Homo sapiens: one gene and its partner. The protein of the gene in region 2 purifies or fractionates together with the protein of the main gene of each other region. This does not show direct contact. Each region holds a gene or a part of one and is shown on either strand. Other genes may lie near its edges. The genes, in order: PLCG2 and LAT2.

What was found.
Region 1: the proteins of LAT2 (region 2) and PLCG2 purify together in Homo sapiens (affinity purification with western blotting, with the first as the bait; one study listed by BioGRID). This does not show direct contact.

What each region holds. Positions count from the first base shown.
Region 1 is NC_000016.10:81,911,571-81,915,378, forward strand, and holds part of PLCG2 (1-phosphatidylinositol 4,5-bisphosphate phosphodiesterase gamma-2), read left to right. Parts: intron 1-1,026; coding exon 1,027-1,146; intron 1,147-3,808. UniProt on the Homo sapiens protein: The production of the second messenger molecules diacylglycerol (DAG) and inositol 1,4,5-trisphosphate (IP3) is mediated by activated phosphatidylinositol-specific phospholipase C enzymes. It is a crucial enzyme in transmembrane signaling.
Region 2 is NC_000007.14:74,223,270-74,227,077, reverse strand, and holds part of LAT2 (linker for activation of T-cells family member 2), read right to left. Parts: intron 3,355-3,808; coding exon 3,295-3,354; intron 3,061-3,294; coding exon 2,881-3,060; intron 2,440-2,880; coding exon 2,336-2,439; 3' UTR 2,318-2,335; intron 1-2,317. UniProt on the Homo sapiens protein: Involved in FCER1 (high affinity immunoglobulin epsilon receptor)-mediated signaling in mast cells.

The DNA of each region.
Region 1 (3,808 bases), on a different chromosome or scaffold from region 2:
CTGCAGGTGTGTGCCACTGTGCCCAGCTAATTAATTAATTAATTAATTAATTAATTTTGAGACCGGGTCTCGCTCTGTCTCCCAGGCTGGAGTGCAATGGCACGATCTCAGCTCACTGCAACCTCTGCCTCCCAGGTTCAAGAGATTCTTGTGCCTCAGCCTCCTGAGTAGCTGGTATTATAGGCGCACGCCACTGGGCCTGGCTAATTTTTGTATTTCCTTTTTTTTTTTTTTTTTTTTTTTTTGGGACAGAGTCACATTCTGTTGCCTAGGCTAGAGTGCAGTGGCATGATCTCGGCTCACTGCAACCTTTGCCTCCTGGGTTCAAGTGATTCTCCTGCCTCAGCCTCCTGAGTAGCTGGGACTACAGGCGCCTGCCACCATGCCTGGCTAATTTTTTGTATTTTTAGTAGAGACAGGGTTTCACCGTGTTAGCCAGGATGATCTCGATCTCCTGACCTCATGATCCACCCGCCTCAACCTCCCAAAGTGCTGGGATTACAGGCGTGAGCCACCACGCCTGGCCCAATTTTTGTATTTTTAGTAGAGACAGAGTTTCGCCATGTTGGTCAGGCTGGTCTTGAACTCCTGGCTTCTCGCGATCCACCTGCCTTGGCCTCCCAAAGTGCTGGGATTACAGGCGTGAGCCACTGTGCCCAGGCTATTTTATTTTTTATAGAGATGGGGGTCTCATTGTGTTGGCCAGGCTGGTCTCAAACTCCTGACCCCAAGTGATCCTCCTGCCTCAGCCTCCCAAAGTGCTGGGATTTCAGGTGTGAACCACTGTGCTCGGCCCAATGTATTATTTTGGGCTTGAAACAGACCCCTGGGGTCTTCCACTATTCTTTTCACAAATTCTCTTTGCTGAGGTGCCTTTGTCTGGGGAAGCCCACTGTGTGATTTCCATGGTCGTTTCCAGGGCCAGGTTCCAGGTGTCACTGGTGCCATTATCTTGTCCTCTGCGGGTGGCCCACTGACAGCCTGGAGACCGCTCACCTGGTCGTTTTCCCTGGCCCTGTGCCGCAGGTGGTACTATGACAGCCTGAGCCGCGGAGAGGCAGAGGACATGCTGATGAGGATTCCCCGGGACGGGGCCTTCCTGATCCGGAAGCGAGAGGGGAGCGACTCCTATGCCATCACCTTCAGGTGGGTGCGAGGGTGGGAGGCACATGCTCTACAGAGGGGCTTGGCAAGGACAGATGCGGAGAGACAAGGGGGAACTTCAGGTGGAGGCTCACCTGCAGTGCCCTGCCCCCCCAGCATCAGCGACAACAACAACCACCACAGCAAAAGCCGCTGCGAGAATGTGCGCTCCTGCGTGCCAGGCACAGTCTGCGTTCTCCAGGGCAGGATGTTCTGTAGTAACTCACTTTGGCTTCCAGTAACTCTGTGGGGTTGACATGACCATGATCCGTGTTTCTCAGAGGAGGAAACTGAGGCACAGCAAGATTAAGTAACTTGCTGAAGCATGCAGCCACTAAGTGGTGGGGCTGGGATTCGAGCCCAGACAGCCCAGGCAGCCCAGGCCTGTGATGATATAGATCTGGTTTCCTCCCAACTGCAGCTGCTGCCCAACCACCTCTAGGCCTGTGGTTCTCTAATGTTACCCCAAAACGCCAGATTCTCCCACTTCCACTAATGACAAGGAGCCGAGGAGTGACTCAGACTCCGTGTAGCCTACTGTCCCTCCATCTCCCCAGCCCCAGGGTTTCCCTGCATGTTCTTACGGTGGTAACAGTCTGCTATATGTTGAGTTCCTAACCGTGTTCTAGACACTGGACTGCCTTCAAGGCCTCATCTGATTGAATCCTTTGCTACAGCCTGTGAGAGGTAGGTCTAGTTATTGCAAGGGAGGAAACAGGACCAGAGAGGTTAAGTGACCTGCCTGGAGTCACACAGCCTCATAGTCAACTGAGTTTGAGGTTCAGATGCAGGCCTGTCCGTCTCCAAAGCCTAAGCTCTTCACTCCAGAGTCTCTAGCCAGAGGCCTGGGGGCCAAATCTCCAGCCAGAGGCCTGTGGGCGTCTTTTGTACACTGATGTGAAAAACTGAGAAATTTCACTGAAAAACTCAGATTGCTTCTTGTGAAAAATGGGAGGCAGTGGATGCTCTGGGCCTGTGTTTCCACATGGGCGCGGTGGTGCTGGCTGCATGGCAGCTACTGTGGGGTGTGTGGTTTGCCCCTGTCCACTCCTCTCCCCATTCCCTCTGCCCTGATCCCATCCCCTGGTGACCCTGCCAGGCTGCCCCCTGGGCGTTTGGATTTCCCTTCCTCCTTGCCTGCACCACTATGCCTGAGCCACCTCCCTGGGGACCGTGGTGACGGTCATTATCACTATAGTTTACTGAGGACCTACTGTGTACTGGCTCCAGCCAGAGAGCAGCCTCCCACCAGCATGGCTTTTCTGTACTCTCTGTTCCCAAGAGGGTGACCTGGGCTTCTCAGCATTGGTGCCTCTGCCCTTTGCTCTTTCCCCTAAGCCTCTTAGTGGTACCTCCTCAGCCTGGATGGGGAGGAGGTGTGTTCAGTCCGCTGCACACGGATTGAAAACCTGCTGTGTGCCAGGCCCCAGGTGGGGTGTTGGCACTCCCACTGTGCTGTCATCCTGTGCAAATGATGGCAACTAAACCCAACTGGCTGAAACTGAGGTGCCCAAGCGGTGAGACAGCTCTGACACAACCGGATCGGGGCCTCACCTGATGATGGTCAGGATGCCACCTGTATGTGCATGCTGGCGTTACTCTCCATCAGCTTCTGTCTCAGGTGGCTGTACCTTGGGCTGCCAGGACAGTGTCCGGCAGAAAGGATGGCCCCCTCCCTGAGCCAGGTGGCATGATTCTGACAGGCCATCTGGGGATGGGGTTGGGGTCACTTCAATGGGACCGCGTGAATGAAGAGGTTGGGTGGGTCCTCAGGTTGATTGCCTGACTTACATACACGCCCCATTCAGTTTGTGAGCTTGTCTTCCCCATGAGATTGGAGGTGTCTTGAGAATGGAAGTTTTTATTTTTTAGAAGTTAATAGATGTTTGGTGAGCACCTACTGTGTGCCGGGCCCTGTGCTGGGCTCCAGAGATGCAGGAGTGATAAAAACAGCCCAGTCCTTGCTCTCTCAGGCTAATGGTCTGGCAGGGATGAGAGACATCGCCTTACTCCAAGTGTTTCTTGCTTTTGACCTGTTCCTGCTTATGTAACATTGGCTGGGATGTAGTTGGTGGTTGGTGAATGCTGGCTCAGTGAATCAATCAGCAAGGATGGCCGCTCCCCACCTCACCCCATGGCCCACTGTCAGGGAAGCTCAGTCCACACAGTGTTTCTCAAAGAGTTGGGGTGTGAGGACTGATCCTGTTGTATTTGGATGTTGAACTTCCCTGGTCTCTACCCACTGCATGTCTGTCTGGGACCCTAAGTCATTGTAACAATCAAAAATAACATCCCTGCCCCAGGACACACACTTTTTCAAACCCTCTCTGGTCAGGGTATGGGGTGAAGCGTCACTGTCCTTCACTGAGAAGCACTGAGGAGGTTTGAGCACATAAGGAAATCAGTGTAGTATTTTGTGATGAGTGCTACAAAGGGATTGGTCAGGCAGGGTGGTGGAGGGTGAGTAGCTCTCCAGGGAAACGGATGGGGAATTTGGACCAGGCAGTAGGGGAACACAGGTCTGCAGCAACTTCTCCTTGCCCTCTACATATTTGTAAAGTGCCTCTCCTGTGCCAGGCACTGTTCTGGGCTCTGGGGATGTGTAATGAACTTCTGGATAGATTTCCCCAGTAGAGGAGAAACACCTGCTTTCAAATCCACAAAG
Region 2 (3,808 bases):
AGGAACGAAAAAAAAAAAAAAAGAAAAAACAACCTTTCTATCTCCCTCCCTCCCTCCCATCTCATGCAGTAAAACCCCAAGTGCTGGCCCTGCCTGGTCAGCCTCCCCACCAACGGCCTCGACCTCCACTAGTTTCCCCTCACCTGCTCCTCCCTGGCCCCTGGCTTTGCTCAGACCTGTGGGGCTCACTCCACCCTGGGGCCTCTGTTGTCCCCTCTGCCTGGATGTCCTTCCCCCAGATGGGGTGAGGAAGGGAGCTCTGAAAGGCTTCCCTAGCCGCCTTCCTTAAATTGCAACACTGCGTCTTGCCCACAACCCCACACTACTTCCTGCCCCGCTTCCCTGTTTTGTTTCTCTCTGCCAGACTTACCACCAGTGAACATGCCATGTCTTCTTATCTGTTTTCTTGTTGTTGTTGTTGTTTTGACAGGGTCTCACTCTGTCATCCTGGCTGTACAGTGGTACAATCATAGCTCACTGTAGCCTTGAACTCCTGGGCTCAAGCGATCCTCCTGCCTCAGCCTCCCAAGTAGCTGGGACTACAGGTACACACCACTATGCCCAGCTAATTTTTAAATTTTTTTTTTGAGATGGGGTCTTGCTCTGTTGCCCAGGCTTGAGTGCAGTGGCACGACCACAGCTCACTGCAGCAACCATGGCTCATTGCAACCTTGACCTCCCAGGCTCAAGTGATCTTCCCACCTCAGCCTCCCAAGTCAGTGGGACTCTAGGGCATCCACCACCATGCCTGGCTAATTTTAAATGTTTTTATAGAGGCTGGACATGGTGGCGTGTGCCTGTAATCCCAGCTACTTGGAAGGCTGAGGCACGAGAATCGCTTGAACCCAGGAGGTGGAGGTTGCAGTGAGCCGAGATGGCGCCACTGCACTCCAGCCTGAGTGACAGTGATACTCTGTCTCAAAAAAAAAAAAAAAAAGTTTTTGTAGAGAGAGAGGTCTTGCTATGTTGCCCAGGCTGGCCTCAAACTCAGAGGCTCAAAGGATCCTCCCGCCTCAGCCTCCCGAAGTGCTGGGATTTATAGGCATGACCGCTGTGTCCAGCCCTATCTGTTTTCTCTCTCCTACCAGAATGCAAGTTCTAAGGGGTCAGGGGTTTGCTGTTCTTTATGTTGGTGTTCCCAGCACCTAGAGCAGGACTTGCCCGTAGCAGGGGCCCAGTGGATACTGGTTGAATGAATGACGTGGGGCTCTGCACATTTGGCTCAAACTCCTGCACCTGCCTCTGGGGCTGACTCTTGACCACCCAGGTTCACTGTGGTTTCCACCCTCCAGCCTGCTCGCTGAGATGACGGCCTGGGTCTCCCAGATGGGGACTTTGGGCAGCCTTCAAGGCCCTCTGGGGGTCCATCGTGCTTCCCAAGCAGTAGACCCAGCCTAGGCTTTGATGTCTGATGTCTGACCACTGGGGATTCCATCTCCTCCTCCCCTTACTTCAAGATGTGGCCTTGGGCAGGTGGCTTAACTGCTCTGTGGCTTTGGGTGCTAAGAGATGGTGCACGTGTGAGCGCTTAGCGCCGCACCATCTCACTGGCCTGCGGTGGCTCCTCAGCGCGTCTCAGCCACTGTTACATTTCCCAACGTCCCTGCCTCCTGTCTGTTTCCAGCATTGACCGAGTGCCTGCTGGGCTGAGGCTTTGTGTGCAATGTCTGTTTTTTTATTTATTTATTGAGACGGAGTCTCGCTCTGTCACCCAGGGTTGAGTGCATGTGATCTTAACTCACCGCAACCTCCGCCTTCAGGGTTCAAATGATTCTCCTGCCTCAGCCTCCCAACTAACTGGGACTACAGGCACCCACCACCATGCCTGGCTAATTTTTTGTGTTTTTAGTAGAGATGAAGTTTCACCATGTTGGCCAGGCTGGTCTCGAACTCGTGACCTCAGGTGATCTGCCTGCCTCGGCCTCCCAAAGTGCCGGGATTACAGGCGTGAGCCACCGTGCCCGGCCGTGTGTGCGATGTCTTCTCTGAGAGGTGGGCACCAAGTGAGGAACTAAGTTCTGGGAGGTTGTCACTTGGTCCAAGGTCGCAGCCAGGAGGATGCAGTGGAGTTGGGAGACCCACCCGGTGCCCACTTCTTTGCCCCTGAAGTCACCAGAATTCCCTGCCTGACGCCCCTGGCCAGAACAGAGGAACAGAGTCGCCAAGCTGCCCTCTTGGAGCACCCATGGGTGCACCCTGTAGCCCCCACCATGGCCCCTCCACCCACACTCTCGGCTGTTCCCTTGGATTGGGGGTCCTGCAGCTTGGCAAGACCTCCAATCCTTGGCCCACGGCAGCTGGAGAGCAGGGGCTGTACCTTTCTTCTTGGTCTGCCCTAGGCTTCTGTGGCTGCCACCTCCCCATTCACGTAATCCGGTTCCCCGTCCTCCTCGTCTGGGCTTCCCACCGGGCCAGGGGATGCTTCTCTCTGGAGTTGCCCTGTGGACCAGCGGGCAGACAGGTCATCGAGTGGTTCACATGGAGACACCCATGACTGCTCCCCCAGACTCAGACCCCCAGACTCCACAAAACAGCCCGCGGGAAATGCCACGCCCGACAGGTCCTGGCGGTGTGTGTCTGTCCTGTCTCTGGGATTTGCCGGAGATCGTCCTGCTGTGAGAGCAGGTGAATGCGTTACTCCATGCATGCAGCTGGATGGGGCGGCCTGCCCGGGAGGACCTGACCCCACCCTGGAGGCTGGGCGGCTGCCAAGGGCCGTCCTGTGTGGTTCAAGGTCTCTGCAGCTGCTCCTGCACCCAGGCATCACTGCGGGGTTAGCTGGACTGGCTGGAGGGAAGCCCACTTTCAGCCTGCCCTTCCAGGCCAGTCCCTCAAGCCTGCCCTAAGTGGACCACCCTGCCTCTTCTCCCGGCCACCTACCCATGACCTTCCTGGACTCGCGCCACTGATGGATGGATGCTGAGTTCTGATAATCCTCAGATTCCTCATCTTCTTCCGGGGAGGCAGAGGGACAGAGACCAGAAGTGGGGCCAGTCTTCAGGGCCAGTGACAGGCTGAGGTCCCCTCTGCAGAGGCCACCTATGCCCTCCTGCTGGGCACCTGCAGAGAGGGAGAATAGGCCCCCCTTGGCTCAGTCCCACAGAGGCACCAGGAGCCAATAGAGCTGCCTCCGAGGATAGTAGGGGCAAGGCTCTACCGAAAGGTACCTGGGGATCCGAGAGCCTTCAGGCTTCAAAGTGGGGGCGGCCTTTGAGCAGTGGGGAGTGCAGGGGCACCTGGCCAAGGAGGCCTGCTGCTCCCAGCCCCAGCCTGCCTCTGGCTGGGCAGCCTCACCTGTCTCTGTGGTTTTCTGCTTGCAAATGAGCACATTCTCGTAGGAATTGGCATCATCATCTGCAGGAGAGAGAGGAGTGGGCACGGGGGTGTGGGCAGACCCTGCAAAGCCTGGCTCATCCTCCCGCTCTGTCCTGCCTTCCCTTTGCAGGGGACCTCTTCCGCCAAGCCCTAGCCCTCTGGGTCCCCCGGGACCTCAAGCCTTCTTCTGGATGAGCTTCCTAATGGGTGCTGGCCTGGTGCCCCTGCATGCTCTTCCCTGAGCCCTGAGCTCCTCTGTCTTCTTTGTTTCTTGTTGAGACGGTCTTGCTCTGTCACCCAGGCTGGAGAGCACTGGCAAAGTCAGCTCACTGTAGCCTCCAACTCCCGGCTCAAACGATCTTCCTACCCCGCAGCCTCCTGAGTAGCTGGAACTACAGGCATGCACCACCACGCCCAGCTAACTTTTAAAATTGTTTGTAGAGAGGATCTCGCTGTGTTGCCCAGGCTGGTCTTGAACCCCTAAGCTTAGGCA